7 linked regions of the Homo sapiens genome follow. The protein of the gene in region 7 purifies or fractionates together with the protein of the main gene of each other region. This does not show direct contact. Each region holds a gene or a part of one and is shown on either strand. Other genes may lie near its edges.

Region 1 (4,824 bases), 5.5 Mb from region 7:
CTCAGTACAGGCCACTCTCATGTGGAGAGAGGCCACGGCCGAGATGGCCTCCTAGACACGCTCGCATTGATTCCTGGTCTTTGTTTTACACAATCACAACGGGCAGGATGGTGTTCACGTGCGACAGTTCTCGCGGTTTAATATCGGTCAGCAAAGCTGTCCCCACCGCTCCAGCCTGGAGTCTAGGGTCGAGAAGGGCGGGGCGTGGCGAGGAGGTCTCAAGGGAGGTGCTGGCCTGACGGCCCCGCCCGTCCCGCCCTTCCCCGCCCCTCCCCGCCCAGCCCAGCCCTGCCCAGGCTAGCAGTCCTCAGAGCCTCCCGCAGCAGCGGCGAAAAGGGGTCCCCCACGGCCTCTAGGGGCCAGGATCCAGGGAAGGCCCGGAGACGGCGCCGATCCTCAAAGGGTCCCACACGCCAGCCACTGGGGACCGACCTGGAACCCTCCATCCAAGATCTCTGGAATCGCCGCTGAGTCAGCAACGCGCGCGCGCGCCCGCGGAGGCCGCGGCCCCGCCCCGGCCGCCTAGCGCCTGAGTTAACCCCTTCCTATACAGAGCCGCAGGATATTAGCCCTAAGAGGCCTCCACTGTATTCGGAGACCACAGAATTCCTTAGAATCCAAGTCAGTCTCCCCAGCTGAGTTCGGTGAGCTGTGAGCTCTATATTCGATTTTATTTCCGGCCTAGGTCTGCACCTTCCCAGAGTGCCTGCCTCAACTCCTTCACCTCGAAAAGGAGGTGAGGCCGAGTGCAGTGGCTCATACCTGTAATCCCAGCACTTTGGGAAGCCAAGCTGGGAGGATCGCTTGAGCCCAGGAGTTAAAGACCAGCCTGGGCAACATAGTGAGACTCCATTTCTACAAAAAATAAATTTAAAAAATTAGCCAGGCATGGTGGTGTACGCCTGTAGTCCCAGCTCCTGGAGAGGCTGAGGTGGGAGGATCCCTTGAGCCGAGGAGTTCGAGGCTGTAGTAAGCTATAATGGCTCCACCGCACCCCAGCCTGGGCAAGACAGCGAGACCCTGTCTGGAAGAAAAAAAAAAAAGGGTGGGGGAGAGCTGAATCAGACCGAGAAACTGGAGAAACTGGACTCCTTCTCCCCAGACGTGGAGGGCCACCTCCAGAGCTGTGTCCTCGCAGGTCTGGACATCCTCTTAGTAGCCAAGGCGTTTCCCTTTCTCAGGGACCCTGAGACGAGACAGGGGTTCAGAGAGCGGCAGTTGGGTTTTCCTCTGTCCTGTGCCAAAACTCCTCAACAGGGTTTTTAATTGGTTGGTGAGCCAAGAGTTAAAACAAGAGCCTGAAGGCGGGCTTCCGTGACGTCACTAGCACCCCGCGTCCGACCTCAGAGACTGGGGCGTGGCTAACATAGCCTCGTCCCCTCCCTCCCTGTTTCCCCGCCCCTCCCCGCTGTCACCAAGCCAGGGGCACATGATGCAACCCAACGCGGTTTCAGCCGTCTGATTGGTAGCCGCGCCCGGCGCCAGGCACAGGGATTGGACAGAGGAGACTGTGACGAAACCTGGACCCTGCCTAGTAAAGAAGGGAGGAGAGAAAGAAGAGAGAGGGGGGGCCCCCCGGGAGGGAGGGGGCCGGGGGGGCGGGGTCCCAGCTCTGTGCTCGCGCCCCCAGCGCGCCAGTCCCGGGGCTGCAGGGAGCGCAGCGCGCGCGGCCCGGGCCCCGGCCACCGGACGCCCTACCGGACACGACCCTCCCTGGAGCTTGGACAACTGCCCACCTCGGACGCTGCACCGGACACTGCCCCCCACAGGGCTGGACACTCCAACGGACACTACTTCCCAGCTCCGGACATTGCTCCCTCCTCTCCCGGGGCCCTGGACGCTTTTCCCCCTCCCCCCTCCGGGGGCCCAGACACTGAGCCCCCCTCAGCGTCTGGCTAGCGTCCCCTTGCACCCCAGCCCAGGACACTGCCTCCTCCCTGTCCTCTTCTCCCTTCTGCTCCTCCCACCTCATCTTTCCCCTGCTCGGGTCGGAGCCCCGCCAGTTCCTCCGACCCCCTACTGCTCGGCCGCGGCTGCCCGCGCCCCCATCCGCAGCTCCTCGCCCGGATGCCTCTCCCCGGGGGACTATGGTGGCTTCTCTGCTGCCGTCGAGGCTTCACTCTTCTGCACCGGGACTACGGGGACGGCGAGCTTAGCGGGGACGGGGACGAGGACGAGGACGAGGAAACCTTTGAGCTGCGGACCCCGAGTCCAGCGGGCGGCGGGAGGGTAAGTCCCGGGGGTTCGGAGCCTCGTCTCAATCACTCTCGCTGTAACCGGCCGTCACGCTGATCCGCTCCAGCCTCCAGCCACACGCTGCGCGCTTGGCGAACTAGGGATGAGGGAGAGTTTTTTGCCTGGGGGCCAAAGCCCCCGGGAGCTCTCGGAGCAGCAGCCCTACTCGGGATGTGCCTGTGGGCCTCCCGCTGCAGGCTGGGCGCTATCCACCTGCTGGGGGCCCTGAGGCAGGGGAGGCGTCACGCGTGGCCCGACCTGGCCCTGCCTCTCCCTTCCCCGCTGGGCCCGCGTCCCATCCCGTCTCCTTCCGCCTCCGCCAGCGCCGAGGAATGTGGCGAGGCCGGCTGGGCGGCTCGAACGCCTGGGTCCCCCTCCGCTCCCAGTTCGCAAGTGCGGAGGCCAGATGCGAGAGCTCCCGCTGCGGAGACCTGGACGAGGGGGAGAAGTCATCCCAGGATTGGGGTCTGTGGCGGGGACCCCAAGGAGAGGGAGGTGGGAGCTCTTTGAGGACCCCTCCTCATTACCCTGCCACTCAGGACAGAACTCTCGGCTTTCCCGGGTGAGGCTCCTGGGAAACCCCTGAGGGGATGGATGGTGAGGGACACTGGGCTGCTGCCTGGTTTTGTCGAATCTCCCCGTGGGGAAACGGAGGCACGATTGGTGTGGGAGACCTCCATCCCTTGACGTCTCCTCCCCCATCCCTCCTGCACACTGGCGGCCAGACTCCCGTGTGCTGTGGCCCGGGTCAGGCTCCCATCCCCCGCGCAGGGGTCCCCAGCAGGCCCAGTGGCTCGGTGCCCGGGTGGGGCGGGCTGCGCCGCCGGGGCCGGCGCCAGCACCTGGCGGAGGCGGAGGGTGGATAAATATAGAGGAGGGGGGAGGGAGGGAAGCAGGGCACTGCGATTAGGGGAGTTAGCCTAAGAGGGTGGTCAGTACCTGCCACATGTGGTGTGGCTGACAGCCCCACTCAGACCTTCCAGAAAATAGGTGGAGGTTCACGTAGGAAGGGTGCAGGACCCAGGCGTCCCCAAGCTTCCAGCTTGGGCAGGGTCGGCTTTACCAGGCCATTGCCTCCCTCATGCTCCACCTCAACTCCCCCCTTCCCTGAGCCTGGGGACAGGTGTCCCTGGCCCCCTCCCCCACCTCCCCCTCTTGGCTCTAGCAGTCTGGGAGCAATATGAGGATGGCACGGTTCCCGCCTGACTGGCCTCCGGGTTGGGTTTGTGGCCTCTCTCAGACCCCAGTCTACAGTTGAAGTTCCAGGACAGGGGGAAGGGAGGAGGAGGGGGAGGGGGAGGGCAAAACCCTGAACTACACCTGCCTCCAGAGGGTGTGCCATTCCTCAGTCTGGCCCGCCCTTCCTAAGCCCCAGCAAAGGGGCAGGGTCTCTGCTCACCATTGAGTCTCAGGAGTGTCTATGGGAGAATGTAAGACGCTTTTGGAGAAAGCCCTATACTGAAAGGGTCCCTCTGCCCTTCATTCACCTCTGTGCCTACCACCTGTCCTGCCTTGGCCAGGGAGGCAGTGTGGAAGAAGGGAAAATGAGGAGGAGAGGGTGCCTTGGAGCCTGGCAGAACGAGCTCACCTCTCCTGTTTCAAAGATGGGGAAACTAAGGCCCGGAGACGGGAAGAGACTTGCCCAAGGTTCCACAGTGAGTTAGTGGTGGGGCGGGAATTGGAACCCAGGTCTCCTGACTCTCTGCCCAGTGCTCTTTCCACCCTACCCTACCCCTGATTGTATTTTCAAAGGGTAACTGAGAGGAGCCTTGGCTCCTTAGCTCCTGCTGTTCTGAAGAGCTTGTCCTGTTAAGACTGGCGGGAGGGGCGAGCCCAGGGGCTCCAGCGTGCTCCACCCTAGTCACGACCCCACTCTGTGACTCCTCCTTCCTCAATCCCCTGAGCAGCCCTGTCCTGAGGGCAGAAGGCACGAACCTTGCGCAGGAAGGGCTCTGACCCTGAGGGCTTCCCCGCCTGTCTCCCCAGGGTCCCCTGGAAGTGACGCTGACTCAGCCAGTGAGGAGCGGGCCTGTCTCCAACAGGTGAGCTACGCCCCTACGTCCCATAGTCTGGCGACCCCAGCATGTTCCCGGGACCCCCATCCTCTCTGTCTCCCCTAGCGGTTGTGCAATAAGGGAGAGGCCCTATGCCGGACGCTGTGGTTTGGCTGGGGTCCCGGGGGGCGGTCCGGCTGGGGGCGCGGGGAGAAAGAGGGGGGTCGGGGCTATTTCTGGTTCGAGGTCAGAATGGCCCAGCGGTTCCCACAGCCTGGGGGAGGGGTGCCCAGCTTGGGAGCAGACACCCGTGCGGTCTGGGGAGCCCCTACAGAGGAGCCCCCTAGAGGCAGAGTGGAGACCCAACCTTCCCTCCCCTCTGGCCCAGGCTGCAGAGCTGGGAGGAGACTTGGAGCCTCATCCCGGAGAAAGGGCTGCCGGAGGACGACCCGGACATCGTTGTGAAAGGTAGAGACCCCCCTCAGTGCACTCTGGAGGCCCCCAATCCCAACCCCCTAGGGATTAATGTCTCTACTGATGTCCCTTCCCTCCCTCTCCGGCCCCCAGGTTGGCTGTACCGGGAGCCCCGCGGAGG
Region 2 (4,048 bases), on a different chromosome or scaffold from region 7:
AAAAAGCATGAGCCGCACTCTTGAGCTCCCTCCCTATATAGGTGGTCCTGGGAGGCCTGCCCTGGTGTCTGCTCCTGGAAGGCAGACACTGCACGTCTACCTGACTCGCGCTCTGACCCTTTCGCAGGAAAACACGTGGTGCAAGCACAGAAGCTGGCGGACGTGGACAGTGAGCTGGCTGCCATGCTACTGACCCATGCCCGGCAGGGCAAGGGGCCCCAGGACGTCAGCCGCGAGTCGGATGCCACCCGCAGGCGTAAGCTGGAGCGGATGAGGTCTGTGCGCCTGCAGGAGGCCGGGGGAGACTTGGGCCGGCGCGGGACGAGCGTGTTGGTAAGGGTTTGTTCAGCTGTCACTGTCCTGGGATCTCCATGCAGACTGAGTCACTGTGCACATCCTTTCCCTGCCTCCCACATGATTCTCTCTTACCTTCCTCCCAAATCCTGGGGACAGAATATAAGAAAATCGGACTTTTTCAGCCACCGGGGGAAATCTTTAAGTGAGAATTATCTGGAGAGCTTTTAATAAAAGCCAGTTCTTGGGCGTCACCCCTGGAGATTCTGATACTGATTGGTGTGGGCAGGACCCCTGGAGCCTGGGTTTGAAGAAAGCTTTGCAGGTGATTCTGAGGCTCTCCCAGGTCTGGGGACCAGAGCTGTGAACAACTGACATATCCTGGGTTGTCAATGTAATCATTCTGGCTAGAAAAATTCCCCTTTTTGGCTGAAAATCTAAATAGAACTTTTAATATTTTGCTACTAAGAAATGGGAGGTGAGAATGGTTGTACCTCCTGGGTTCATAGAAGTCGGGAACCACAGGGGCCTTGAGAAAGATCTCCTGAGATTCCCCCTTGCATGTAGGTAGGCCGGGGTCTGAACAGAGGTGGCCCTTTTCCTGACAGTAAACTCAGCAGGGCTGCCACTCAGCCTCCCTGCCAGCAAGGCGTTGGTGCTCAAAGGTGGATGCAGACGCCTCGGTCCCTCCCTAGGCTCAGTTCAGTCTGATGGGGCGAGGAAGAGGCATGGTGAGAAGACACGGGGTGAGGAGGCCTGGCCTGATCCCACAGGACTGGTGGGCTCAGTGGTCAGGGAGGAGGGAGGGACTAGAGGGAGGCCAGGGCAGGGCCAGGGCATGACTGGGGCCTCCTCCCAGGCCTCAGGACACCCACCCCACCTCCCTCCCTCCCTTCCTCCCTCCCTCCCAGCTGGCAGGGCTTGAAGCTGTGGCCTCTGGAGGCCCCTAGCCTGGATAACCTTAGCTCTGTCAGCATAAGCTTGGAATTGAGGAGCCACTCTCAGCCCTATCCCTGTTTCTCATCCTAACTCATGTCTGGCCCCATCGTCCAGCACAGCCTGTCAGAGGTTCCACTCCTGAAAAGCTCTGAGGATGAAATTCTGATGGAGGCCCCAAGTGTGAAAGGCCAGCTCCAATCCCCCTGCAAAGGAACAGCCAGAGCCTTGGATGTTGGAAAGTGAATGTCCAAAGTCATTTAAGCCAGAAATCAAATTTTGTCCTCACCTTTTGAGTTAAATCCTGAAAGCACTGAAGTCAGCCCATCTCTCTGACGCCTCAGCCTCCTCTGTGTTAGACAGAAGGTTCCCAGCGCCCGGCCGCAGCGGCTTCTTGGAGTAGCTGCAGGCTGGCTGACTCCCCGGCATGGGGGTGGCCCCTTCCAGGCCTGAGATCTTGCAAGGCAGCCTCTAGTGGGCCTTACTTTTTCTTGTAAGTCCCACAGGAAAAACAGGCCAGTCTCCAACCTGTAGAACCCATGTGTGCTGGCCAAGCCCCTTGAGTCCCTGCGGCATCAGAGCAAGGGGGTGGCTGAGCCTTGCTGAGGCAGCGTGCTGCTTGCCTGGACTCTGACCCGGTGTGACCGAGACTCAGCAGGCCGGGGGCATGTCCTCTCCTGTGGACGCTGGGCCCAGGCAGGGCTCCCAAAGTTGTGTTGGGGACCTGGCTGGTGAGGCCTGTCACCATAGTTTTGAGGCCATTCTTTTCTCTTGTTTGAAACTTCTGATTCTCCACCGTGCGGGGGGCCAGACTCGTGTCTGTGAAGAGTCTCTCAGGAATAGGCAGGGATGCTGTGTGGACCTCCGTGTCAGGGACACAGCCAGCAGATCTCTGTCCAGCACTGCCTGAGATCCATGCCTGGGCGGGGCCGGCCAGTTCCACCCAGACCACATGGTCAAGGAAGGGGGTGGTGGTGGCGATGCTTGTGGAGAAATGTCCTCTTCTGAGATCGCGGGTGGTGGGCAGCCAGCAATAGCCCCTTGTGGAGGAGAGTGTGCCTGGGACCCTGTCCACCCATGTCCTCTTGTCTGCAGGCGCAGCAGAGCGTCCGCACACAGCACTTGCGGGACCTACAGGTCATCGCCGCCTACCGGGAACGCACGAAGGCCGAGAGCATCGCCAGCCTGCTGAGCCTGGCCATCACCACGGAGCACACGCTCCACGCCACGCTGGGGGTCGCCGAGTTCTTTGAGTTTGTGCTTAAGAACCCCCACAACACACAGCACACGGTGACTGTGGAGATCGACAACCCCGAGCTCAGGTGAGGTCTCAGTGGTGCCCGTCCTGCCCCAGCCCAGATCTGTGTCGGGTGCAGCCGGCACCCCTGCTGAGCTGGCTCGAATTCTGCCCGAGAGCCGGGGCGATTTGACTTCTCTCTCCCACTCCTCTGAGCACCGCTCTCGGTGGGTGGGACCGCAGCCTCCTGTGGGTCCTCCTGGGAAGAACTGCCCTGACGCCTGGACACTGCCTCCCCCAGCGTCATCGTGGACAGTCAGGAGTGGAGGGACTTCAAGGGTGCTGCTGGCCTGCACACACCGGTGGAGGAGGACATGTTCCACCTGCGTGGCAGCCTGGCCCCCCAGCTCTACCTGCGCCCCCACGAGACCGCCCACGTCCCCTTCAAGTTCCAGAGCTTCTCTGCAGGGCAGCTGGCCATGGTGCAGGTGCGGGTGTCAGGCACACAGGGAAGTTGCATTTGGCTGATGACGGTGGGAAATTGAGAATGCTTCCAGTCTCCACCAGTGTCCCTCCCTTACCTGTGCAGACAGACTAGCCTTGGGGCTGCCGCCCACTCCCCTTGGTGCTCAACAAGAGCCCTGGCATGTACACTGCAAGTGGCAACCAGCCCCTTCTCTTTTCCAGCCTGATGGGTGTCGAGCTGGACCATCTCCTCCTAATTTTCTTTACTAAGTTGGTTGGAAGGGCTTCTTAAAGCCCAGTGAATCTAATGGATTGACGTTTTCTAGCATCTTCTTTCCAGTTAATGTTGTTTGGTCCCTTCCGACTGCAGCACTGTCTGCTCTATGCAAGATGCAGCTTTGCAGGCATGTGTGCGGGGAGCATGCGTGCAGGGAGCATGTGTGCAGGGAGCGTGCGTGCAGCAGGTATATGTGCAAGAGGTATGTGTGCAGGATGTATGTGAGGTGTGTGTGCAGGGGCGATATGTGAGGTGTGTGTGCAGGAGGCATGTATGCAGGGTGTGTGTGAGGCACGCGTGCAGGAGTTGTGCGTGTAGGGGTCTGTGAGATGTGCAGGGAGTGTGTGAGGTGTGTGCAGACATGCAGTTGTGTGTGTGCAGGGAGTATGTGAGGTGTGTGTGCAGGTGTGCACTTGTGTGCAGGGGGTGGTGTGTGAGGTGTGCCTGCAGGGGGTGTGTCATGCCCGGGTGCGTGAGGCCGGCATGGGGTGTGGAGTGTGTGTTTCAGCTTTTGACCTTTTGGGGTCAGCTCTCTAGGGTGGTGGTCATCGCTTAAGGTGGACTTGAGATGTCCCTAGAGGCTCACTCACAGGATGCCATGCTGGCTCTTGGGATGGGCTGTGAGGACTGCAGGTGGGACCTCAGGCCTTTGGCTTCAGGCAGAGCCGGGTTTCCACCTGGGATCTGCTGTTCCCTTTGTTCCTGGCAGCCTCAGCCTTCTCTGGCACAGTGAGGCCGGTTGGTGATGGTTGCTGCCTGGAGAGTCAGTGTGAGAGGAGGCTGGTGGCTCCCAGCTGGGTGGCAGTGGTGTCTCTAAGCACAGGTGCTGGTCGCCTAAT
Region 3 (4,048 bases), on a different chromosome or scaffold from region 7:
GCATGATGATGTTTCAGTCAACAGTGGATGGCACATACAACTGTGGTCCCATGAGATAATACTGTATTTTTACTGTACATTTTCTTTGTTTAGATATACAAATACTTAGCACTGTGTTACAAATGCCTGCAGTATTCAGTAAAGTAACACACTGTACAGTTCTGTAACCTAGGTATGTATTAGGCTATACCAAGTAGGTTTGTGTAAGTTCACACAGTGACGTTCACACAAAAATGAAATCTCCTAATGACGCATTTCTCAGAATATGCCCCCATTGTTAAATGACTCATGACTGTAGTGTCTACTTTAAAACTCATGCCATGTAGACTTTCAGGAGAAGGGCAAGATTTGCAGAACTAAGGAAAGAAACACACTGAACATCTGCTATGTGCTAGGCACAGTGCTAAAAATGCTTTCCCTTACATTTTTAATTAAAATCAATCTGGATGAGCTTTTCTGATTTTAGGATAATAAGTTTGTTTGTTACGTTTTATTATATTGTAAATCAACAAAGAATGCAGTGGAAATATATTTTCGCAGAGAAAGCAAATATCAATTCCACTATAAGAAAAGCATTAATTTCTGCAGTATGTTTATTAATTGTTTTCCAGGACAGAGGTTATAGGCAATAACGATGAAGGGACCAGCTAGAAGAAGCCAGACCTCTTCAATCCTGACTTCTTCACCAAAACACAAATCCTCCCATTTTCCTAAAGGTAATGTCCAACTCAACATCACACTGCCAAGTGCATTCACTTTAGCAAGGCTACAGTTCTCTCAGGCTCCAGAACTATTCTCCCTTGGTTCAAATCCCAGCCCTACCACCTAATTAGTTCTGAAACATCAGACACCTTAATTGACTGCCCCCTGTGGCAGTTTCCTGTTCTGTAAAATGGCAAAATGATATAGTCCATACCTCATACGGTCATGATGAAGACAAAATACAATCAGAGCAAAGCCTGATACATACCAAGGTCTTAAAAGACAACAGCAATGCCAAGCTCACACTGGCTGATCACTCTGCTTATTCCTACATCCACACTTCTGCTGAAGCTGTTCTGCCTCAACACTTCCTTGTCCTTTCCTCCATCAAAATTGTCAAGGTCATTCAAGGACAACTTCAAGTCTCAACTCCTCTACTTTCTCTGTAACCTTCCTAGCCCTGAACTGTATGTCTTAGAGTCACAGAACCATCTCGCATCTGAACGTCTTCAATTTAGCGCTCTAATGTGCAGAGGAGACTGCACCCCAATCTCAGTACATCTAACTCTTATTCCAGCTGTGTCAAAGGCTCCTTAGGGATTATGAGTTCACATCTTTACATGGTCCAGCTCTGGAAAAACATAAAGCCGAATGTCTACCTCATTCTTTTACACGAACTTTCAAGATGGAAAAAAATGTAAAAGTAAAAAACAAAATTGTAAATGTTCTAGGAAAAAAAACAGATATGAATATTCTTGTAGTCCTAAAGTGAAGAAGGCTTTTCTAAGCCTGGGATAAAACTCTGAAGCTGAGAAATAAAGAATTTAGTAATTTTTAAAAGTTTACACTACCATATGATGAAAATACCATAAGCAAAATTGTAAGACAAAAAGCAAACTGGGAAAACGTAACTACCACACATATCACAAAGGGTTACTATACTTTATACAAAGGGATTGCTCGCACTGCACAGTGCAGTGCATGGTACTGTACACCGCCTCACAAGTATGGCTTTATTCAGTGGTCCTTCACAGCTGGTGGGGCCTGAGGTTCTGGCTGGGTCTGGCGCATGCCTGGTTGCCTCTCTATCACCATCCTGCTCACTATACTAGGGCTAGATAATCTGCAGGTCAATTTCACCCAATAGCCAACAACACGAGGAGTTTTCTAGACATGTGAAGTTTCAAGGGTTATTAAAAGTAAAATATTTTGAACATCTACCACAACCAATTAATTTTTTTTTGGAGGTGAATATTTTTCTTTTTTTTTTTTTTATTACACTTTAAGTTCTAGGGTACATGTGCACAATGTGCAGGTTTGTTACACATGTATGCATGTGCCATGTTGGTGTGTTGCGCCCATTAACTCGTCATTTACATTAAGTATATCTCCTAATGCTATCCCTCCCCTCTCCCCCAACCCCACAACAGGCCCCAGTATGTGATGTTCCACGCCCTATGTCCAAGTGTTCTCATGGTTAAGCTCCCACCTATGAGTAAGAACATGCGGTGTTTGGTTTTCTGTCCTTGTGATAGTTTGCTCAGAAGGATACCACAACCAATTATTTAAAGAACTAAAACTTGTTATACCCACGTCTAAGCAAAGAAATATTTCCATTTATTTTGACCCTGTATCCTTGAGTGAAAGTTCTGTGAGAAACAGAGAGAAAGGAAAATATGAACTCAGGAGCTCAGTGACAATGCCCAAAATTTGTATACCAGGGTGTACCACATCGTTCATGTCAAGGCAAGATTTCTTCCCCCTGGTTCTACTGAGATTATCAGTTTTCTTTACTGCCTGTACACAGAGGGCCATGGCCGAATGGCTAGTCAAATGCTGGTCAGTGGTGCCATCTGGTGTTTCAGTTAGAGATCTGCACACAAATGCAGCTACACTGCAAGAGATGAAAAATGGGCATCTTCGCCTCAGTTTACACCTCCCTTCTATTACTCTGTTGCACCTGTCTCCTGACTACATTCAGCCAAACATAATAGTATTAATTAGAGGATGTAAAATATTTAAGTTATTAAAAAGAAAACCCAGAGTATGTGAGGGAAAGGCTGTACTCTCATAGGTCACTCTCCAGGGGTTCTGGCTGAACACCCTTAATGTTCACTAAGGAAGCCATCATCCATATATAGACTTATCTATTTCTGTTTAAATTCCCAGTCTATGCTACCTATCAGAGTACCTGGTTTTCTGTTGTTATTGTTTTTTAATGTGTTGTGTGTTAAGAACTGCCTTTTACTTTTATTTGTCCTAAGACAACTTTTTTTTTTTTTTTTTTTTTTTTGAGACTGAGTCTTGCTCTGTCATCCAGGTTGGAGTGTAATGATGTGATCTTGGCTCACTGCAACCTCCGCTTCCCCGGCTCAAAGTGATTCTCCTGCCTACTGAGTAGCTGGGATTACAGGCACACGCCACCATGCCCGGCTATTTTTTGTATTTTTAGTAGAGAGAGTTTCACCATGATGGCCAGGCTGGTCTTGAACTCCTGGCCTCAAGTGATCCGCCGGCCTTGGCCTCCCAAAATGCTGAGATTACAGGTGTGAACCACCATGCCTGGCCCTAAGACAAGCTTTTTAAAGCTCCAGTAAGTACTTCCTAGTAATAGTGCTCTGAATTTAGGCTAAGAGAAATACATGTAACATACTTTTTTGTTCTATTTTAAAATAATAAACCCTTCTCAGTCTTATCCATCTAGTACAAAGAACGTTAACAGCAAGTTCTCAAAATTCTGACCTCAGTCAGGCCTTTCTTCAGAGCTGCACACTCATTTTTCTAGCTGGTTTCACATGAAAATAAGACACAATTTGGCCAGGTGAGGTGGCTCATGCCTGTAATCCCAGTACTCTGGGAGGCTGAGGCAGGCAGACCACTTGAGGCTAGGAGTTTGAGACCAGCCTGGCCAACATGGCAAAAGCCCATGTCTACTAAAAATACAAAAATTAGCTGGGCGTCGTGACACACACCTGTAATCCCAGCTACTCGGGAGGCTGAGACACGAGAATCACCTGAACCTGGGAGGCAGAGGTCGCAGTGAGCTGAGATTGTGCCACTGTACTCCAGCCTGGTTGACAGAGCAAGACTCTGTCTTTTAAAAAAAAAAAAAAAAAAAAAAAGACATGATTAGTCCAAAGCTGTATGTGTTTGCCACACATCCCAATACTCGACCAACATTACCTTTCTTCCTTGTCCTGCTTAACGTAAACACATTACCCAGAAGCCCCACCTTAGCAACCGTTTCCCTACTGAGCACTGACAATGTGCCAAACACCAGACCGAGGCCATCACACACGTTCTCTCTCCAAGTCCTCCAACCCAGGGAAGTTAGGGCCATGTGAGC
Region 4 (4,048 bases), on a different chromosome or scaffold from region 7:
GTGGGAAGCATTGCCATATTAACAATATTAAGTCTTCTGCTCCATGACTGTGAGATGTCTTTTGGTTTATTTTTGTCTTAATTTCTTTCAACAATATTTTATTATTTTAAGAGTATAAGTTTGTACTTCTTTTGTTAAATTTATTTCTAAGTATTTTATTCTTTTTTATCCTATTATAAATTGAATTACTTTCTTTATTTCATTTTTTGTTTGTTTATTGCTAGTGTGTAGAATACAACTGATGTTTGTATATTGGCTTTTATCTTGCAATCTTGCTTAACTCGATTACTAGTTCTAAGAGTTTTTTAGTGGATTCCTTAGGACTTTTGATATATAAGACTGGGTCATCTGCAAATTGAGATAGTTTTACTTCTTTCTTTGCAACCTAAATTCATTTTATTTCTTTTTGTACCCTAACTGCACTGGCTAAAACCTCCAGTGTAATGTTGAATTGAAGTGGTTAGAGTGGACATCCTTGTCTCATTCTTTTAAAAAATAATTAGTTAAATTTTTTTTCTTTTGTAAAATATATAGGCGGGGGTCTCACTATGTTGTGCAGTCTGGGCTCCAACTCCTGAGCTTAAGTGGCCCTCCCTTCAGTCTCCCAAAGTGTGGGATTATAGGAATGAGCCTTCGTGCCTGGCCTCTTGTCTTGTTCTTCATTTTAGGGGAAAACATTCAGTTCTTTACTTTTAAGTGTGATCTGGGTTATGATTTTTAATAGATGCCCTTTATTAGGTTGAGAAGTTTCATTTTTTTTTAGCTTTTTAAAAATCGATACATAATAGGTGTACATGTTTTCAGGGTTCATGTGATCATTCCATACATTAATATAATCAGATCAGGGCTGTTGATATACCCATCATCACCTTAAATATTTACCATTTCTCTGTTCTAGGAACATTCCAATTATTCCCTGCTAACTATTTTGAAATGTACAGCCTTTTGATGTTAGCTATAGTCACCGTACTGATCTACTGAACAACAATTCTTATTTCTTCCATCTAAGCGTATGTTTGTACCCACTAATCAACCTCTCTTCATCTCTCCTCCCCCTACCCTTCCCAGCCTCTGGTAACCAGCAGTCTGCTCTCTATCTTCATGAGATCTACTTTGTTAGCTTCCACATCTGAGTCAGAATATGTGATATTTGTCTTTCTGTGCTTGGCTTCTTTCATGTAACATAATGTCCTCCAGTGACATCCATATTGTTGCAAATGACAGGAATTTATTCTTTGCCCAGCTAATTTTTTATGGCTGAATAATATTCCTCTCTCTCTGTCTCGCTCTCTCTCTCTCTCTCTCTCTCTCTCTATATATATATATATATGGATGTTTCAAAAACAACTGCAATGTGACATATATATATATATATATATATATATATATATATATATATATATATATATATACAGGGTCTCAGTCTTTTGCCTAGATTGGAGTGCAGTGGCATGATCATAGCTCATTCCAGCCTGGATGGAACTCCTGCACTCAAGTGATCTTTGCACCTCAGACTCCCAAGTAGCTGGTACTAGGGGTGTGTGCCACCATGCCCGGCTAATTTTTGTATTTTTTGGTAGAGACAGGGTCTTACTCTGTCACCCAGGCTGTTCTTGAACTCGTGGCCTCAAGTGATCCTCCTGCTTGGCCTCCAAAGTGTTGGGATTTATAGGCATGAGCCACTGTGCGTGAACACATTTTCTTTATCCATTCATCCTTTGATGGACACTTGGGTTTATTCCATATTTCCGCTGTTGTCAATAGTGCTGCAGTAACCATGGGAGTGCACATATCTCTTCGTGATTGATTTTCTTCTTTCTTGGATATCTACCCAGCTGTGGAATTGCTGGATCATATGGTATTATTATTATTATTATTATTATTTTTTTTTTTTTGAGATGGAGTCTTGCTCTGTTACCCATGCTGGAGTGCAGTGGCACGATCTCAGCTCACTGCAGCCTCCGCCTCCCGGGTTCAAGCAGTTCTCCTGCCTCAGTCTCCTGAGTAGCCGGGATTACATATATGTGCCACCACACCTGGCTAATTTTTGTATTTTCAGTAGAGACGGGGTTTCACCATGTTGGCCAGGCTGGTCTTGAACTCCTGACTTCAGGTGATCTACTCGCCTTGACCTCCCAAAGTGCTGAGATTACAGGTGTGAGCCACCGTGCCCAGCCTTTAGTGTAACTTTTATTGAAAAAAAATTCCACGTATAAGTGGATCCATGCAGTTCAGAACTTTGTTGTTCAAGGGTCAATGTAACTTTGAACTTGTCTCTCACTTTTAAGACATTAAATAATTTTAAATTCTAATGACAAATTTAATTTTAAGTGTATTGATTTAAGGCATTACATTACAACTTTTGACAATAATAATAGTAAACTGCCAGACATTTCCAAGTTTCATGGCAATATCGTCCTTGAAATTGTATTGAAAAGCAGGGAAAAATAAGTTTAGCTACTATACCGTCTCAGTTACTTGCTTTAAACATTATTTTGCAAAACAGTACTTTTGCAAAACAATTAACATGGTTTATGATGGGCTACAAAAAAAGGACAAATTAACTTCTGAAAATGATTCAACAGAAGCTAGACTTAATAAGGAGGTAATTGAATCACTGCATCAGCCAGATGAAGTATGAAATGTGAGTTTTTTTAGGTATTCTGTGCGATTTAAGGCTTAGCAGAATTAAAGGTAGTGACAAGTAGAAACTATCTGATATATCAATGACTAATAACAATGTTGATAATTTTGATAGGTGATTTTTATTTTGTGTCAAGTACTGTTCTAACATCTTTACATATGGGCCAAGGATTGGATTGTCAAATCAGACTGACATGAAGTGGAGATGTTAATCAATATTAAGCTTTCCTTATAATTTCAAGAATACAAGCAATCAAAAGGCTCAGAAAAAGCAGAGACATGTCTGGGACATTGAGAGAGGCCCCCGGATCCTTTCTTACTGCAATAGACAAAACTCTGTGGCCCAAAGCAGTAGATGAGGTCCTTAATGAAATATATGAGTTATTAGCAGGGAGTGTTACAGGCTGTGAAACATCTCCGTTTTATACCCAGATAGTTGCAAAGCTCATGCCCTGTGCCCAGTGCTCCATGTCCCATAAATCTTGAGATTCTCAGTTTGTTTATCATAGTAATCCTAATTCAGGGGCAGTCTGCTAACAGCTTTTTATGGGTAAATAGTCTTTTTTTAAATTATTAAGCAAACACTGTTAGTATTTTTGCCAGCTATTGGTGTGCTTACAAGGAGGTTTGACCAGATTTTTTACCTTCTTTTTTTTTTTTTTTTTTTTTTTTTGTGAGAGAGCCTCTCACCCAATAGGAGAAAAACACTGCTTTAACTCTTTCTCCCCAACAAATTAACTCATTTAAATTCAATTAATTTTTTTAGCATAAACAAGATAAAATATATCAAGAAGGAATTTAAAACATTGAAACATCAGATCGGTTTCTAAAAAATCTTTTATTTTTAGTTTGGTTAGTAGGCATTGGGGAGAGAAATGCACTGAGAAGTATATAGTAAATATAAATATTTTCCTATTACCAACAGATATTCACAATAGCAATTTATTTTATTAACTTTCTTGTGTGTATGTGTCTGCACAGTTAATAGACAATTCTTTTTTCTATTTCACATTAGAAGATTTGAGAAATCATATGATTCTTTTAATGTTTAATTATTTCTTCTTTCTCAACCCAACCTTCAAATCAGAATGGAGATCCAGTTCGCCCAGGAGTAGCTATGACTGATCTTGCCACTGGCCTGTATGCATATGGAGCTATTATGGCTGGATTGATACAAAAATACAAAACTGGGAAAGGACTGTTCATTGATTGTAACCTACTGTCATCCCAGGTAACAATCCAACTAACATTTCAGATAATGTTATAAAAACTGTGTCTGGGTTATACCTTTTCAGATCAAATTCTATGGTCACATGTACAAAAACAATACAAAAACCAACACAACAACACTGAAAACTGTTTCATTTTGATGTACTTGTTTCTTTTCTTTTTTGAGATGGAATTT
Region 5 (4,048 bases), on a different chromosome or scaffold from region 7:
CACAAGTTTTGTGTGTGTTAGGCCACCACACAGTGGCTTCAGGGACATTTTTGTCTTATGCAGTTGCTCAGGGCCACACACTCAGAAGGCCCTGGGATTGGGTTAATGATCTGTTGTTGCCTTCTTGAAACTCATAATATTTTTTTACAAAAGGGATCATACTTTTTTTTTTTTTTTTTTTTTTTTTTTTTGCATTGGCTTTCTTAAATAAAGCAGCTGTCCTGGACAGATGCCCACTCAGCAGAGACCCAGACTCTAGTTAGGGACAGTTCACAAGACAATGCCTGCCTGCTTCTTCTCAGGTCAGTTCTAGAGATTTACATTTTAATAGTACATACATTTTCTTTAAAGCATTTCCCCATATCTGGTGATGAGATACTGATTTAAATATAATTTTTTATAAGAGCAGTAGTCTATAAATATATAGGAATCTGGGAATAGTTAACTGTTACTCGCTTCTTAGGTACTAAGTCAAGTTTGGAATATTTTTAAAAATCACATTTAACAGATTTCATAATGTAAATGTTGGTGAAAATTTATCAGAAACAAAACTCAATGTGATCCATTCATTAGACACGAAGGAAGCACCCATTAAGTAGTAAGCATAGGGCCATACAAATGGAATAAGGCCTGTCCCTGTTTTCTAAGAGCTCATAATTGGCCTAGAATGACAGATGCTATGAGCAATTATTTCTGCCTAGGGGGCAGAAAGATAGAGTAGGAGAAGAGATTAAATATTATTTAATGATGCAGGACTGCATGGGGGCGGGGTGCTTGGTGTCCATGGAAGACATTGGGAATGCACTGTAGACCAGGATTTGAATTATTACGGATTGGTTAGACTTGTTTTTTGATCCACATTTATTTTACTTTAGGTATAGGGATCACTGTAATGGTGTCTTGCAGTCGGAGAGAGAACTTGGATTCAATCTCAGTTTTATTTTTTTGATTCACATTTTATGATGTTTTGTTCTTCTGTGCTTTTAGCCTCAGCACCCCAATCAGATGAAGGCTCTGATATTGACTCTGAACCAGATTTACCACTAAAGAGGAAACAGCGCAGAAGCCGAACCACCTTCACAGCAGAACAGCTGGAGGAACTGGAGCGTGCTTTTGAGAGAACTCATTACCCTGACATTTATACTAGGGAGGAACTGGCCCAGAGGGCGAAGCTCACCGAGGCCCGAGTACAGGTACTGTTGCCCAAACCTCCGTGTCCTACTTCAGTCCAGACAGGAAACAAACAAGCATCTTCTCATCTAAAACATATGTCAATCCCCCCCAAAAATGTATTAGGAATGGCCCTTTACTAGGGATGCATATTGTTAGGACTTTGATTATTTACTGACAGAATACAACTATATCATTTACGACACACAGAAGTCCACCACTTCATGTGACTAACTCAACTTTTCAGGAATCCTTATTGTACACCAGCACTATATGGACTTTGGGGGTGATACACAAGTAAGAGCAAATAAATTTTGAGTGGTTACTCTGTCCCAGCCACTATTTTAAGTGCTTCACATGAATTAACCCATTGAATCATTATTAAAATCCTAGGTGGGTACCATGATTGCTACTCTCCATTTACAAATAAGGAAACTGAGACTTGGACTATATAAGTAACTACCCAAGGTGGCATAGCTGCAAAGTGAGTCTAGAGATAATTGGATCCCATACGCTTCATCTCTGTGACCTTTCAATTATGAAAATGTGCAAAGGTGCATAACATGAAATTCCTTCATTTAACGATTTTATAATTAAGAAGCATTTCAAGAAATTATATTACTTAAAGAACATGTTGAATTATCTTTTGAACTCTTAGAGGTGCTCTGAACCTTCTGGAAAGGCTACTTAGATGTAATATGTTTCTATAGAGTATAGAATAATGTTTTCATCATTAATGAAGAACTACTTCCTGGAGCTAGTAAAACAGTGTTTGAAAGATGGCAGATATCGTAGGGTATCCTCGAACTCCTCACCACCCTAGAAGTTAAGTCACCTTGTCTGCAAATATTGTGTGTTATTTCCAGATTCTTAATTTGCAGGCTGGGGACTCAGCAGTGGACTAGTCAGTTGACATGGTCCCTAGATTGATCAACACGTTCATAGATGCAGCTAATTAACTCTCCTATTACAGAATTTTACAGAAATAGCCTCTTCCAGGCTGCAGAGCTCAGTCAGAGAGATTGTTTTCTTCAAACTTCCATATGATCATCATAGTGCTAGGAAAGTCAAGGAATGCTAAGATCAATTAAGACAGTTCTCTGAAGGAGTTGCAATCTAAGAAAGGTAAAAAAATAAACATACAAATAATTTAAAAATAACACAGACATGATAAGTGCAGAAAGAGAAAAAGTGCAATGGGAGTTGAGAAGAGGAAAGGATGAGATTTTTTTTTTTTTTTTTTTTTGAGGTGGAGTCTCACTCTGTCACCCAGGCTGGAGTGCAGTGGTACAACCTCAGCTCACTGCAACCTCTGCCTCCTGGGTTCAAGCGATTCTCCTGACTCAGTCTCCCAAGTAGCTGGGATTACAGGTGCTTGCCACCAGGCCCGGCTCATTTTTGTATTTTTAGTAGAGATGGGGTTTCACCATGTTGGTCAGGCTGGTCTCGAACTCCTGACCTCGTGATCTGGCCGCCTTGGCCTCCCAAAGTGCTGGGATTACAGGTATGAGCCACCATGCCCAACCTTTTTTTAAAAAATTATACTTTAAGTTCTGGGATATATGTGCAGAAGGGGCAGGTTTGTTACATAGGTATAACACGTGCCATGGTGGTTTGCTGCACCCATCAACCCGTCATCTACATTAGGTATTTCTCCTAATGCTATCCCTCCCCTAGCCCCCCACCCCCCAACAGGCCCTGGTGTGTGATTTTCCCCTCCCTGTGTCCATGTGTTCTCATTGTTCAACTCTCACTCATGAGTGAGAACATGCAGTGTTTGGTTTTCTGTTCCTGTGTTAGTTTACTGAGAATGATGGTTTCCAGGTTCATCCATGTCCCTGCAAAGGACATGAACTCAAGGGATGAGATCTTGAAGGAATGAAGAGAGGTACATGAAGAAGGCAGATTTAATTTTTTTTTTTTTTGAGACAGGGTCTCATTCTGTAGCCCAGGTTGGAGTACAGTGGTACAATCACAGCTCACTGAAGCCTACACCTCCTGAGCTCAGGTGATCCTCCCACCTCAGCCTCCCAGATAGTTGGGGCTACAGGTGCATGCCACTATGCCTGGATAATTTTTTGAAGAGATGGGATTTTGCCATGTTGCCCAGGCTCTTCTTGAACTCCCAGGTGCAAGCGATCCACTTGCCTTGGCTTCCCAAAGTGCTGGGATTATAGGCATGAGCCATTGTGCTGGGCCCAGAGGGCAGATTTAAGATGAACTTTCCGGGCTAGATAGATATTCACTGGACCAGGTGCATAAGGAGAGTATATTAGTAATAGGGAATTATATGAGCAGAGGCACAGAGAGGTAGAAGTGGTGGGCTACACGTAAGATAACCTTTCTTTTTCACTCTAGTCATATTGGGAGAATAGTTAGTTTGATTAGAATGTAAGGAGTGGTAGGGTGGTGGAAGAAATAGGGTTTGGTAGGTAGGCTGAGGATATCCTATGGAGGTCTTGGGTTTCAGGCCAGTGAGCTCACATTTGATGTGACAGGGAGTGGGGGCTATGGCATGAGATAGGTAGTGGCAGTGGGAATGGCAAGGAAGAGATGGTGGTGAAGGTATTCAGAGGTAGAATGGACAACCGATTGTGTAATCTAGAAGTGGGGAGGAAGGTGAGTGAAAGGAAGAGTTGTAGATAGACCAAGGTTCACAGAGCTGGTGTTTTAAAGTTGGGAAACCTATTATCATTGGGAAACAGAGTGTTTCTCCCCACCACACAGTGTAGAAATAACCTTTATTAACTAAGTCATAATATTTCAATAGAAAAATATTTTAATACAGTATTGATATAGTAATATTATATAATACTATATAAATATTATATTAACATAACATTAATATTACTATATCAATGTTATGATATTAACATGC
Region 6 (4,048 bases), on a different chromosome or scaffold from region 7:
CCCAGCACTTTGGGAGGCTGAGGTGTGTGGATCATCTGAGATCAGGAGTTCAAGACCAGCCTGGCCAACATGGTGAAACCCTGTCTCTACTAAAAATACAAAAAGTAGTCAGGTGTGGTGGCGCACGCCTATAATCCCAGCTATTTGGGAGGCTGAGGCAGGAGAATCACTTGAGCCCAGGGGGTGGAGGTTGCAATGAGCCGAGATCACGACACTGCACTCCAGCCTGGGCAATAAGACTCTGTCTCAAAAAAAACAAAAAAAAATGAATTATTCTAAGTTATAATCTTCTTTATTTTTATTTATTTACTTTTTTGAGACAGGGTCTGGCTTTGTCACCAAGGCTGAGTGCAGTAGCACAATCACAGCTCACTGCAGCTTCAAACTCCTGGGCTCAAGCAATCCTCCCACCTCAGTCCCCTGAGTAGCTGGGACTAGAGGTGCCCACCACTATGCCTAGCTAATTAAAAATTTTTTTGTGTGTAGAGATAGGGTTTCACTATGTTGTCCAGGCTGGTCTCAAACTCCTGGCCTCAAGCCATCCTCCCACTTAAGCCTCCCAAGTAGCTGGAATCACAAGCATAAACCACGGCACCCGGCTAGGATTATTCTAATTGCTAGAGCTGTCCAAAAATCTATCTAGTAAGATTTTTAAAAACCTCATTCAAAGGTTACTTGTAAATTAAATTAAAAATATGGACTTAAAGGACTTAAGTCAGTAAAAGTATATGACAGATCAGTAAAAGTACATGACAAAGTTAATTTTATTATTGCTTAAAAGTTATATAGTTCCCAAGTAGATTTCACAAAATGGATGTGATGTAAGCTGATTCATATACATGTATCATCTTGTTTTTCTCACATTTACTGAAAATTATACAGACATGTGAGGAAATCTTACCTTCTTGGTAGGCTCCATCTGCCATGACTAAATGAAGAATCTTGGCATAAAGATGCTGATGTTCATTTCCCAAAATATTTTGAACTATTTTTGAACAAATTTCAATATTTTCATCTTCATCTTCATGAATAGCCTATACCAAATTCCCAAATATAAATTAATATTTGAATAACTTTCTGTAATTGCAGACTTCACTTTTTATTTATAATAAATCTAATGACCAATACAGATTATCAACATTTCTTCAACCTTCAAACATAGCACATTTTAAGTGTTTTAATTGACTTTTCACTTACCTTTATTTTCTCATAAACCTCAAAGAATTTTTCAAAGCCCATTTCCTGCTCCAGATGAAGTCTCAGTTCCTCTAAATGGTTAAAGACACTATCGCATTCACATTCACTAGCAATTTCACCATCACTGTTATCTAAAAAACAAAATTAAAATAGAGATTTGATTTAAAAAGACTGAATAACTCATACCCTAATAGACTAAAATTCTATGACAAATGAATAATGCCATTGAAATAGACTACTTCTACTTTCATTATAAACAGTTTTTGTCATTTTAATATTTGTCCTTTATTTGGCAAAAAAAATGTATAAATCTGTCTAAACAAGAATGTTACTTTTCATGTATAGATATAAAAAATAAATCAGGTTGGAATCAAAACACTCCTAGAGATGTTACTTAAATAAAAAAAAAAAAGTGGAAAAAGCACACCTCCATGTTTTGCTTTGAAGCAGCTAACCCTAACTAGTATTTTCAAAAGTTGGTAATAAACACGGGAAACACCATGGAAAAGCCTGCAAAAGGTAGACAACCTAAGACATACATCATTACATTTCAGGAAAGCACCTAGAAAGTATAAATGGCCAATATGTTTTGTCATGTACGTGCTCGACATACTTTGAAAAAAATTACTTAGTCTTTTCACATTAGCTTTTCTTCCTAAATTAATATCATATAGTTATTGAAACAGACACACTTTCTATGCATCTTAGGGGTAATATTATGAAAGAGAAAGTTTACAAATTTACGAAAAGAGTTTTTAGTACTTTAAAAACTGCTTTCAGTGTTAACTCTGCTGGTTAATATATGCAGAAGCTCTTTCTAAAATATAGAATGCCAAGAAAACAATGTTATTATCTTTATTACTGGAAAAATCAGTCAATAAATGGAGATTAGAATAAAAATGCTTCAAAAAAGCATTGACATAATAGGAAAGAAATAAAAACTTTAATAAAAAATGGAAAATCACACATTTGTATGAAAAGAAAAAGAATGAAAAAAGGGGAGAGACCCAGAGGCATGCTTCAGTTGTATTTAAAGTTGGAAATGGTTCACAGCAGAGATTAGAAAAATACACTCTACTTGAAATATTTGTAAACTGAAAAAGAAAAAGGTCCAAAACTCTGATCATGCACCTGAGTGCCATTCTTCGTTCAGGGCACTTTCACTGCTGGGATTGTCATCTTCATCTGCCACATCTGTCCCATTTGCAGTTGGCTCCACATCACTGTTCTTCAAGACTGACTCTTCTTCTTCACTGTATTCTTCACCAGGTTGTTCCCTAAGTAACTGTTCCATCGAGGCCTGCAGCTCTTGTAAATCTGTGTCAGTTTCTTCAAACACACTGAAATTTAAAAAGTATAACTAAAAGTTTCAAACATACTGAAATTTACCAAGTTAAACAACTAAAACTACCTCATACTGAAATTTTACTTCTACTCAATACGTAGGCACTTCTTAAAAAATCCTAATAGTAGATAACAAAAAATCTGGAAAAAGCCTACATTGTTTTTCACCGGTAAATTGAGGATGAATACAACTGATAAATATATCACACAACACATATTCTGGAATATATAAGCCAGAAGATGATTTGTTTAAAATGATCCCAACTTGCCAAAGAGAATCACATAACTATCGATGTTACTCATTGCTTAAATTCTGAAACAATGTTTTGATATTTTAACAGGCCAGACTATAGAAGTTTTTCTAAAACAAATAATAGTAAATTATTTTCTCTTTTATGGAATTTTGTAATTTTCAAAATATCCATGTGGCTAATAGCTAGACACTATACAAAAGGCTTTCCATATACATGCCCATTGGGCATTTGAACTTTTAGAAATAGAAATACTTAGGAAATTTTATATTCATGTTAATAGGATGACCCAGTGAATAAAATGGTCACCAGAAATCTTATCTTTAGATGCTTATTCTTAAAAATGTTCTAAAATACATAATAGATTTTCTGTGTAACTAGCCTATACCAACCATCATAATTCTTCACTGGAGAATTTTGTTTCCAAAGTATTGGTAAGAATATTCATTCTATTTTCATGGGATTATAGATGCTGGAATGAAATAACTTATACAAATAATACCTTACATTTATATAGAACTTTTGTTTTTTAAACATTTTTATCCTACTACTCAAATTTTATCCACAAAAAATCACTTTAGAGACATGAAAACTATGAACCAAAATGTTTAAATGACTTGGTCAAGGCCACATAGTCAGTAAATGACAGAGCACTGAAATCTAGTCTTTGACCACTTCTGTAATATCTGAGAAACATACTCAGAAAAATTTTTTTCCTCTTATGATTTGCTTCTTTATCCTAACATGGAATGTAAATGGAAAAGTTTGTAGACTAAAGGAGTTAACTGATGTTTTAGATGTCTGAAGACTTCTAAAAGAGATTATGTACCTAAGCCGGGATTTCATCTATCAGGAAGGCAATGCTTAACAGGACACAAGGGCTAATTAAGGCCTTTCTAAAAGTTTAGACTCCAATCAAATATTTACTGAAGAACTAAAATATAAACACTATTGTGTAAGACTGTCAATATAATTTCCATTAATAGAGTAAATAATCTTTTTATGTAGAAATATCTTTATTTTGTACTTATATGTACAAACGCCTACAATTTGACTTGTAGGAGCTATAGAAAAGCAAAGCATCTAATTAGAATGAGAAAATAGTGTCTAATCTCTTGAATCATCCTACTAGTAGCATTTAACTTAATATATAATTACAAGACTAATTTAGGCTGGGTACAGTGGCTCATGCCTGTAATCCTAGCCCTTTGGGAGGCTGAGACAAGAGGATTGCTTGAGGCCAGGAGTTTGAGACA
Region 7 (4,048 bases):
GGAATGGAAGACATCGTAAAAGGAGCTCAAGAACTTGATAACGTAATCAAGCAAGGATACTTGGAGAAGAAAAGCAAAGGTATTGGTCAGACCCACAGATTTCAGAACATTCCAGGAAGGGAAGGGAAGTGAGGAAAAAGAAGGCTAACACATTGGATGCCTTCTCTGTGCCCGGTACTGTGCTAGGCGGATACAAGGCAAAAGCAAAGCAAGGAAAGGAAAGGAGTCTGGTGTTTTCGTGTAGGCTAAAGAGAGATGTCCCAGCCTTGAGCAGACTGTAAGCTTCATCAGGATAGGGATGGTTATGTCCTGCTCACCTCTGTATCCCCAATGCCTGGTATGTGACAGGTGCTTGATAAAACTTGTTGAATCCATGAATGGTGTTCTTGTCCTCATCTCTCAGTGTGCTCCCACTGTGTAGTTTTTGTATCATATGTGAAGCAGTCTACTTTCAAATTTCAGATAAACCCAACTCTTTTGTTTTTTGTTTTTGTTATTGTTGTTGTTGTTGTTTGAGACAGAGTCTCACTCTGTAGTGCAGTGGGTGTGAACCTGGCACACTGCAACCTCCACCTCCTGGTTCAAGCGATTCTGCTGTCTCAGCCTCCTGAGTAACTGGGACTACAGGTGCGTGCCACCATGCCCAGCTAATTTTTCATATTTTTAGCAGAGACAGGATTTCATCATGTTGGCCAGGCTGGTCTTAAATTCCTGGCCTCAAGTGATCTGCCCGCCTCAGCCTCCCAAAGTACTGGGATTACAGGCATGAGCCACCACACCCGGCCTTTTTTTTTTCTTTCTTTCTTTTTTTGTTTTAAGATAGGATCTCCCTCTATTACCAAGGCTGGAATACAGTAGCGCCATCATAGCTCACTGCAGCCTCCAATCCTGGGCTCAAGCAATGCTCCCACTTCAGCCTGTCAAAGAGCTGAGACAACAGGTGCACACAACTGTGCCTGGCTATTTTATTATTTTTTTATAGAGACAAGGTCTCACTTTGTTGCCCAGGCTGGTCTCAAACTCCTGGCTTTAAGCATACTTCCCATCTCAGCCTCCCAAAGTGCTGGGATTACAGATGTGAGCCACCACTTCTGCCTTCAAACCCAACTCTTGACCTTTAACTCATTTAATTAGAGTAGGTACCACTAGAGTTGGCATCTCAGGTTTAACACTCAACAGGCAAATTGGCTCAGCACCAAAACAAAGGCTCTTTCATGGCCAAGGCCTGGAGAATCATTTTGCTTTGTCAAAGGCAACACATAAAGATATAATGGAGAGTTTGAAAATGTACAGGATGAGATTAGAACCCGAAAGATATAAAGGAGTCTAGATAAAAAGACAGCTGTGGGGGCACAGAGCAGGCAACCCTGTTTAGAACTTGGACCTTTGACTGAGCTAGTCCCCTGGACCCTGAGTCAATATGGGATAACCTGTGGGAGTGAAAAGGAGGGTTTTACAGTCCATTAACCTGGGAAATAAAACAATAACACACTGGACTGTATGTTGTTGGATTTTACAGACTCTTCAATGATGGTAGTTACCTGAATTTATGTCCCCTACTGCTGTTCTGTTTAGATCATAGTTTCTTTGGATCGGAGTGGCAGAAGCGATGGTGTGTTGTCAGCAGAGGTCTCTTCTACTACTATGCTAATGAGAAGAGTAAGTGTTCTTCATTTACACAGCAGCATCTCACTCCTGGATGCAAACACTTCGTAAATTCTCAAGCACTTAGATCCCAAGATAGCAGTCCTTAACTAACACCCATAAAGGGACATGCTTAGGAAAGAAATTGGCATGGACAAATAATACCTTGCCCATCACCGAAAAAGCAGAACCCAATTTAGAAATTATTTCACCTTTAAACACTAAGAGTGTGGTCAGCACATCAAATGGTTATCTTTTATGATGATTAACAACACATTATCAAAGTTGAATGTTTTGGTTTTTAAAAAAAATAAAAAGAACTTCAAACTCTTTACAGGCATCAATACCATAGCTAAAAATTGAAATAAATTAATTCTGAGAAAGACTTAAAGAACTTAAACAATGGCCCAGAAATAGAACCCCCTAAGGGCATGCTCCCTGCTTTATCTTCATGACTGCTAGTAAGTAAGTAGTCCAGTGGACATTCCTATAGCCATGGAATATTGAGACCCAAATGGTTGCTGTACCCAAGGCATGCCCTTCAGCCAGATGACAGCAGCAGTGAAGTGTTGACTCGGGCCAGAGATAGTTTCTTAATGAGCCACCACTGACTTAATCAAGTCAACACTCATGAGCTAACCCTAGAAGACCTCCCATCCATGTTTAATGTAATTGATTGGTTTATGAAAAGAAATAGAGGATATAAGCACAATTGGAGGCAATTACAAATAAAGACAAGCTAAAAATTATTATTATAGATGAATGCAAACTTTCGAATAGGGGATACTCTTCTACAGAGTTGGACTGCCCCAGGAGTAATTCTAAGACGCAAGAGGGAGACAAAGTTTAAAAAGCATCAATTCTTCTTGGGGCTTTCCTTGTACTGTGCACCTTCGTACAGAGGCCAGCGATACAGTTTGAGTAGACTCTTCTTTTTCCTTGCAATCATTTTCTGTTTCTCCTTCCTCAAACTTAGTGCTTTCCCAGTGCCTGGATATCCAATATAGGGAATAATCAGACACCCACCCAGTTGCCTTTGTACTTCCTGCACCTGTGGCACTAAGGTAGTGGAAAGAACTGCAGCTTTGGGCCAGGCACAGTGGCTCACGCCTGTAATCCCAGCACTTTGGGAGGCCAAGGCAGGCAGATCATGAGGTCAGGAGTTCAAGACCAACCTGGCCAACATAGTGAAACCCCGTCTCTACTACTAAAAATACAAAAATTAGCCAGGCATGGTGGCATGTGCCTGTAGGCTGAGGCAGGAGAATTGCTTGAACCCAGGAGGTGGAGGTTGTGGTGAGCCGAGATCACGCCACTGCACTCCACCCTGGGCAACAGAGCGAGACTCTGTCTCAACCATAAATAAATAAATAAATAAATAAATAAATAAATAAATAAATAAAAACTGCAGCTTTGCTAAGTGACTTGAAATCCTTAAGATTTGCCCAAGCAATTGTCTCACACTGCCTGCAGTAGTTATCACAGACCTTTGCCTACCTTTCACCATCCTAGATTCCTCAGAACATTTCGCATCTAGGGGCAAAGGCTAAAGCCCTGTTTGGGAAGGATAACAGCATAGTTTGTAAACTGAGCTACAAGTCCTCTGTGTCCTTCCAACCCCCAGCCCACTCTCCAACCCAGCAACCACAATTTCTCCTCTAAATTATAGGCATTCAATCCAGCCAGTTGTTCTTTTCTTATTTTAAAACTTCAAACTAATATGACACTTCTCACTGTAAATATGTTCATCATTTATTTTGCATTTAAATAAGTGGTTGGCATATCTAGATATAAAACCAGGTGTGTCACATCTGTTCATTCAGAATCTTCCATACTCACGGTGAGAGAGGAGCAGGGAGAGCAAGAGCAAGAGACTCGGAAGCTTTTATTGACCATTTTGCCATTAGGGTGAAATAAAATCTGGTGACCAAAGAAACAACAAAACATTTTAGTGGCCAGTTAGAACAAGGAGAGATACTTTAACAAAAAAGATTCTGGTGTCAAAAAGCACTGTTCCATGGCTCCCTTCTCGCCAGTTATTTCTTACTGTGCCCATGACATTTTCTTAGTAAGAATAGTGTTTGTGTATTTCTTTTAGCTCAACCAGGTGAGCACAGTCTTTTTTCTTCTTCTTTCTTTTTTAATATTGGCATCGCACTGCCATCCTTGTCATCATTATCATCATCAAAAGGCATTTATTAAGCAATTCATTTCACATGATATAGAGCTCAAAGCATCCCAGACACTGTGGTTCCTGTTCTCTGTGTGTTCTGCCTGACCCACACAATGAGGATACAAAATTCTTGAGAGTCACCTCCTCTTTTTCTGTTTCTAACATTTTTTTTAAGTAGTGACAAGCAGAATAGTCTCTCTTCACTTATGGTCCTTTTCCTTTTATCTCCTT

Evidence for each region.
Region 1: the proteins of SKAP1 (region 7) and PLEKHH3 purify together in Homo sapiens (affinity purification with mass spectrometry; 3 studies listed by BioGRID and IntAct, with this or other methods). This does not show direct contact.
Region 2: the proteins of SKAP1 (region 7) and NPHP4 purify together in Homo sapiens (affinity purification with mass spectrometry; 3 studies listed by BioGRID and IntAct, with this or other methods). This does not show direct contact.
Region 3: the proteins of SKAP1 (region 7) and TTF2 purify together in Homo sapiens (affinity purification with mass spectrometry; 3 studies listed by BioGRID and IntAct, with this or other methods). This does not show direct contact.
Region 4: the proteins of SKAP1 (region 7) and SUGCT purify together in Homo sapiens (affinity purification with mass spectrometry; 3 studies listed by BioGRID and IntAct, with this or other methods). This does not show direct contact.
Region 5: the proteins of SKAP1 (region 7) and PAX3 purify together in Homo sapiens (affinity purification with mass spectrometry; 3 studies listed by BioGRID and IntAct, with this or other methods). This does not show direct contact.
Region 6: the proteins of SKAP1 (region 7) and NEK1 purify together in Homo sapiens (affinity purification with mass spectrometry; 3 studies listed by BioGRID and IntAct, with this or other methods). This does not show direct contact.

The regions. Positions count from the first base shown.
Region 1 is NC_000017.11:42,673,807-42,678,630, reverse strand, and holds the start of PLEKHH3 (pleckstrin homology domain-containing family H member 3 isoform 1 precursor), read left to right. Parts: upstream 1-1,636; 5' UTR 1,637-2,067; coding exon 2,068-2,229; intron 2,230-2,241; exon of another isoform or gene 2,242-2,406; coding exon of another isoform or gene 2,407-2,700; exon of another isoform or gene 2,701-2,730; intron 2,731-3,755; coding exon of another isoform or gene 3,756-3,890; intron 3,891-4,221; coding exon 4,222-4,277; intron 4,278-4,617; coding exon 4,618-4,697; intron 4,698-4,796; coding exon 4,797-4,824.
Region 2 is NC_000001.11:5,873,378-5,877,425, reverse strand, and holds part of NPHP4 (nephrocystin-4), read left to right. Parts: intron 1-127; coding exon 128-333; intron 334-902; coding exon of another isoform or gene 903-905; exon of another isoform or gene 906-2,311; intron 2,312-2,325; coding exon 2,326-2,552; intron 2,553-2,768; coding exon 2,769-2,955; intron 2,956-4,048. UniProt on the Homo sapiens protein: Involved in the organization of apical junctions; the function is proposed to implicate a NPHP1-4-8 module. Does not seem to be strictly required for ciliogenesis. Required for building functional cilia.
Region 3 is NC_000001.11:117,066,472-117,070,519, reverse strand, and holds part of TTF2 (transcription termination factor 2), read right to left. Parts: intron 1-4,048. UniProt on the Homo sapiens protein: DsDNA-dependent ATPase which acts as a transcription termination factor by coupling ATP hydrolysis with removal of RNA polymerase II from the DNA template. May contribute to mitotic transcription repression. May also be involved in pre-mRNA splicing.
Region 4 is NC_000007.14:40,270,783-40,274,830, forward strand, and holds part of SUGCT (succinyl-CoA:glutarate CoA-transferase), read left to right. Parts: intron 1-3,730; coding exon 3,731-3,874; intron 3,875-4,048. UniProt on the Homo sapiens protein: Coenzyme A (CoA) transferase that reversibly catalyzes the transfer of a CoA moiety from a dicarboxyl-CoA to a dicarboxylate in a metabolite recycling process.
Region 5 is NC_000002.12:222,229,223-222,233,270, reverse strand, and holds part of PAX3 (paired box protein Pax-3), read left to right. Parts: intron 1-987; coding exon 988-1,193; intron 1,194-4,048. UniProt on the Homo sapiens protein: Transcription factor that may regulate cell proliferation, migration and apoptosis. Involved in neural development and myogenesis. Transcriptional activator of MITF, acting synergistically with SOX10.
Region 6 is NC_000004.12:169,399,324-169,403,371, forward strand, and holds part of NEK1 (serine/threonine-protein kinase Nek1), read right to left. Parts: intron 2,538-4,048; coding exon 2,329-2,537; intron 1,329-2,328; coding exon 1,198-1,328; intron 1,035-1,197; coding exon 902-1,034; intron 1-901. UniProt on the Homo sapiens protein: Phosphorylates serines and threonines, but also appears to possess tyrosine kinase activity. Involved in DNA damage checkpoint control and for proper DNA damage repair.
Region 7 is NC_000017.11:48,185,454-48,189,501, reverse strand, and holds part of SKAP1 (src kinase-associated phosphoprotein 1), read left to right. Parts: intron 1-1; coding exon 2-79; intron 80-1,575; coding exon 1,576-1,659; intron 1,660-4,048. UniProt on the Homo sapiens protein: Positively regulates T-cell receptor signaling by enhancing the MAP kinase pathway. Required for optimal conjugation between T-cells and antigen-presenting cells by promoting the clustering of integrin ITGAL on the surface of T-cells.